Regions from separate parts of the Homo sapiens genome. Here region 1 is linked to region 2. Evidence: fine-mapped expression QTL. Tissue or cell type: lung. Region 2 holds a variant in brackets; the other region holds the start of a gene. All regions are shown on one strand. Distances are between the middles of the regions.

Region 1 (2,500 bases), 33 kb before region 2:
TCACATTATGGTCCAGTGAAGTGGGAAGGCTGGGCTTGAAAAGGCAGTATTAGAACGGACTCTGCCTCCATTCCCAGTGTAGCTTTCCTGTGTCACATTTTGAGAGGCTCTAAGCAACCTGGGCTTGATTTACCCAAGCAGGTCCTTGGGAATCGTGTTTAACTCAAGATGCTTTCTCCCCATGCCTCAGCCGGGTCACTGGCTGCATCTGATCCTCCTCTGGCCCTATTTGGTAGATAGGACTTTGCCCAGGCCTCAGGGGGTCCTCCTCCCTCTCCTGGAAAATACTCCCTCTTTGCCCTAAAGGCTTGCACTCCAGGGCGCTTAGGAACTAAGACTTGAGTTTGGCAGCCCCGAAGGATGCCCAGGGCAAGAGTTAGGTTCAGACCCAGCGTAGCGGCCATGGGCTCGACTTTCCAACTCCCATTTCTGGCCAGTCTGCGGGGTCAAAGTACCCAGTCACAGATTTGACCTTACCGGAGAGGCAGAAGGGAAAGGAGCCCACAGGAGGCATGCGGGCTGGGCAAAGCGCCCTCGGCGGCGTCTAGAGCACTCGGAGCTGCCCCATTGCCTCCGCCCAAGGTCGCGGCCCAAAGGGAGCCCTGGAAAGTTCAGCCAGGGGCCGAGGAGTGCCAGGGTTGGCACTACGGGGAGACTTTTGCGACAGGAGAGAGACTAAGAGCTCGATTCCAGGTAGCAGTGGGAGCCCGCGGCAAAGAACGCCCAGTCCCGCAGGCTGCATCCCAGACCGCAGCGCCTAGCTCGGAAAAGCTGGGCGGGGGCTGCACCACCTGAGTCGCAAGGACAGCACGGCCTCCCCCTCCTCACCAGTGTTCTCCACCCCCAGAATTGGGGCGCGGAGAGCCAATCTGGGCTGGAAAGGGAGCGGCGCCCACCTTTGGGCAGCCCGAGCAGCCCCGCTCCTTTTCTGTCGCAGACCCCAGGCTGGGAGGCGGGGGCGCCAGGTCGGCCCAAGCTGCCGCAGCCACTGCTTTAAAGGGAGCCGGGGACGCGGCGCTGGGGACTGGGCGAGGCGGGTGGCAGAGGCAAGAGGAGAGTGGTCGAGCGCCGGGGCCAACACTCGGGTCGCGCAGGGCGGGTGTTGAACACCCCAGCAGACGCACTGCGGGGGACTGGGGTCGCAGAGTCCCTTACCTTGGCGAGCTGCGGAAGTCCTGCGCGAGGCGGCCCGCGGTGCACGGGGCCGGGGCAGCTAGGCGCACACCCCGGCTTCGGAGCGCACGCAACCTCCGGGTGCACTGTCCGCGTCCCAGGCGCGCACCCCGGGGCTGGCGCACCCTGGTCGTCCGCGGCGCGCACACCCTCCAGGCGCCCTCTGGCCGACGGTCTCGGCCCTGGCCCCGGCGCACCCCTGCGGGCACACCCACCGCGGCGGATGCGGGACTGGCCAGGCGCCGCCAGCCGCGGCTTCGCCCCGCGTCGCCAGCTGCCAACAGCGCCCGAGTCCCCGCCTTCGCTAGGGGAGAAAAAAAAGACTCCTGACGCGGCGCGGACTTTGGTGTGTAGGAAGGGGCAGAATTGCGAAACCGAGGGGAGGGTCTTAGCCTCGATAAACTCAAAAGCCCTTGATAAACATGAGCTTAGAAGAAAAACTTTTTGAAAAGAGACCAAAAACTCCTAACCTGTTCATAGCGCTTTTCAGATTCCCAAAGTGCTTTCGTATGCGTTTATCTCGGTTCATCTAGACATTTCCATCCTCATTTGATAGGTGCAGAAACAGCACCAGACAAGGTAATGACTTGCCCCAGCCAGGACTGGAACCTAGGTCTGGCCACTGGGAAGCTGGGTGCAGTAAGTTAGGTCCTCGCCAGCGGATGTGGGCCAGTGAGGGCTGGGGTCCTAGTAACAGAACTTTTACCTCTCCTAAATCGTCTTTTTCCATCTCCTTTTTTTCTTCCCAATCCTTGCTGTAGTCCCACTCAGGAACCCTAAGTCTTTCATTTCACACTCCGACCTCCCACCAAAGGTTTGTTGTTGTTGTTGCTGTTTGAGACGGAATCTCGCTCTATGGCCAAGCTGGAGAGCAGTGGCGCGATCCCGACTCACTGGAACTTCCGCCTCCCTGGTTCAAGCGATTCTCCTGCCTCAGCCTCCCGAGTAGCTGGGACTACAGGCGCACACCACCACGCCCAGCTAACTTTTGTATTTTTAGTAGAGACGGGGTTTCACCATGTTGGCCAGGCGGGTCTCGAACGTCAGGTGATCCGCCCACCTCGGCCTCCCAAAGTGCTGGGATTACATGCATGAGCCACGGCGCCCGGCCCACCAGAGTTTTTTATCAGTTCAAAATGTTTGCGTTTCAACCGCTAACCTTGAATGAACAGTTCACTAAGTGCCTGGTGGGCGTTGTGCACCCTAACCCTAGGAAAAAGGAGCTGCTGCTACTCCTCCTTTACAGATGAAGACAACAGAGATAGGCAAGTAGAGGGCCGTGGACCCCGTAAGACTCCGGATGCCAGCTCTGACCCCCACAATGGGC
Region 2 (2,839 bases):
GTGTTTTGTTTTGTTTTGTTTGTTTGTTTGTTTTTCTGAGACAGAGTCTCACTCTGCTGCCCAGGCTTGAATGTAGTGGCACAATCTTGGCTCACTGCAGCCTTCGCCTCCCAGGCTCAAGTGATTCTCTTGCCTCAGCCTCCTGAGTAGCTGGGATTACAGGCGCGGGCCACCACACCTGGCTAATTTTTGTATTTTTAGTAGAGATGGGGTTTCACCATGTTGGCCAGGCTGGTCTCAAACTCCTGACCTCCAGTGATCCATCCACCTCAACCTCCCAAAGTGCTGGGATTATAGGTGTGAGCCACCATGCCCGGCCAAGACTAGTATTTTTTGTTGCTGTTTAGTTTTCATTTCAAAAATTTCCGCCAGGTGCGGTGGCTCACGCCTGTAATCCCAGCACTTTGGGAGGCCAGCGCGGGCGGATCACGAGGTCAGGAGATCGAGACCATCCTGGCTAACACGGTGAAATCCCGTCTCTACTAAAAATACAAAAAAAATTAGCCGGGCATGGCGGCGTGCACCTGTAGTCCCAGCTGCCGGGGAGGCTGAGGCAGGAGAATGGCGTGAACCTGGAAGGCGGAGCTTGCAGTGAGCCGAGATCGCGCCTCTGCACTCCAGCCTGGGCGACAGAGTGAGACTCCGTCTCATAAAAAATAATAAATAAATAAAAATAAAAATAAAAAATAAAAATTTCCAATCCATTGCATACAGATGATTTTGTAAAATAAAATGAAAGACATAGGTGCAAAATATAAGCCTTTGTCTTTGTTAAAAGAAAAAGCAGACATATAAAAAGCAAGCTTTATTTTATTATTATAGTCAAATTGCTGTAAGGATTTCTAAACCCTTCTTCTCAATTTCTGTACTTTTAGCTTCTTTGACCAGTAACAGTTTTCAGACCACACAGGTCTCTGGGCCGCACCTGAAGGAGCACTGTCCTCTAGCCCCCGAGACGACTCTGCACTTGGGCAGCACTTGATCCGCTTTAGGGAACCCATTTGAATTTCCCTGCCAAGTGTTCTGCCAGGTGTCCGAAGGGATGGGATGCGTAGAAGAGTGGTCCTTGTGGAGAGGCCCTCAGAATGAGGAGGTCCCTTCTGGTGATATTCACAGGCAGATGTGGTTGTGGTCCCAGTTGTGCTATCTAAGCAGCTTCAGGACCCTGGGTGTGTCACCTGAATGTGGCCTTGACCTGAAGCTAGACCAAGGTTCTGTTTTTTTTTTTAGACGAAGTCTCACTCTGTCACCCAGGCTGGAATGCAGTGGTGTGATCTCAGCCCACTGCAACATCCACCTCCCAGGTTCAAGCGATTCTCCTGCCTCAGCCTCCCAAGTAGCTGGGATTATAGGCACACACCACCATGCCCAGCTAATTTTTGTATTTTTAGTAGAGACGGGGTTTCACCATGTTGGCCAGGCTGGTCTCGAATTCCTGACCTCAAGTGATTCACCTGCCTTGGCCTCCCAAAGTGCTGGAATTACAGATGTGAGCCACCATGCCCAGCCTAGACCAAGGTTCTTAAGCTCTCTGTGCCATGGACTGCTTTGATAGTCTGGGGAGGCCTAGGGACCTCTTCTCAGGTAGCCGGAGAAGGAAGCCTGCCTCTCTAAATCCTTCCTGGTGCTAGTTGGGAGGGGCCTCATTCCATTGAGGGACCGTGACTCCAAGTTTCAAGTACTGACTTCAGTAAACAGGGTGGCCCACAGAGGAACCGGGAGCAACTGGGAAATA[T/C]GCATGGCACCTACTGTAGTGGACAAACGGGAGAGAAGCCAGGAGCAGAACTGTTAGCCTGTAAGTTAAAGAAAAGTGCCCTATGAAAGGGGAACTTTGTGCCTTAGTGTCTAGATTGCAATATTCTGTACCTTCCCCCACCACATCCCTCTACACTGTGAGCTTTTTTTTTTTGAAATAGGGTGTCACCCAAGCTAGAGTGCAGTGGTGTGATCACAGCTCACTGCAGCTTTGATCTCCCAGGCTCAAGCAATCCTCCCACCTCAGCCTCCTGAGTAGTTGGGACCATAGGCACATGCCACCACACCTAGTTAAGTTGGTTTTGTTTTCTGTGGGTTTTGTTGTTGTTGTTGTTTTGAAAGACAAGATCCCACTATGTTGACCAGGCTGGTCTAGAACTCCTGGGCTCAAGCAATCCTGCTGCCTGGGCCTCCTTGTTGGGATTATAGACATTAGCCACCATGCCTGGCCACTGTGAGCTTCTTGAAAACAGAAAAAAAATTCCTTATTATCATCAATATCCCCAGTGTCCAGCCCAGGGTCTGGCACACAGGAAACCCTTAATAACTATCTGAAGGATGATGAAAAGAAAGGAGAGTGGCCAAAGTCATCCTGAGCAAAAACAACAAAGCTGGAGGCATCACACTACCTTATGATGAGTAAGCTTCAGGGACAGTGTGCAGGGTCACAGAGCACAAAGTCGCAATTCTGCCTAGGAGGTGGGCAGCCAGGGCTGGAGGAGAGGGGAAAGGCCTCATGGAGGTGACATTTGTGCTGGTCTTTGGGTCTGCTGGCGTGGGCAGAGGAGAGGGGGAAGGATGGGAGTCAAGAGGCTAAAAGGAGGAAAGGCAGGAAAGGGAAGCTTGTTTGGAGAATGGCAGGGTGACCACCTGACCGGAATTTCAGGGGCTTGGGGGACGGTGGCAATGGGAGTGACAGGAGGAGTACACGAGGTGACTCTGGAGGGGCCAGCAGGCAAGCGGGGAGCCCTGAAAAGTTTTCAAGCAGGAAAGTGGAAGGATCACAACTGTCCTTTAGAAAGATGACAGTGCCAGGTGAAGAGACAATGAATTGGAGGGAAGAGAGGCTGTAGGGAGGGAAAAC

Direction of the effects. Alleles are on the strand shown, and positions count from the first base shown. SD is a standard deviation of normalised expression in the study named.
For the expression in lung of the gene that starts at base 1,484 in region 1, C is the low allele of the variant in region 2 and T is the other (small effect, 0.27 SD a copy in GTEx).

The links. PIP is the estimated chance that this variant, and not a neighbour inherited with it, causes the effect.
Region 1: KANK4 starts here. The variant in region 2 is fine-mapped to the expression of KANK4 in lung (GTEx, PIP 0.90).

Annotation. Positions count from the first base shown.
Region 1 is chr1:62,317,951-62,320,450 of GRCh38, forward strand. It overlaps KANK4 (KN motif and ankyrin repeat domains 4), which reads right to left and starts at 1,484. Exons shown (of 10, transcript NM_181712.5): 1 at 1,156-1,484. RefSeq lists enhancers at 77-801, 802-1,524.
Region 2 is chr1:62,350,811-62,353,649 of GRCh38, forward strand. No RefSeq gene overlaps it. Among named protein-coding and RNA genes, the nearest start is that of KANK4, 33 kb to the left of the region's middle. RefSeq lists an enhancer at 502-1,002. The variant T/C (reference allele first, on the strand shown) is at 1,736.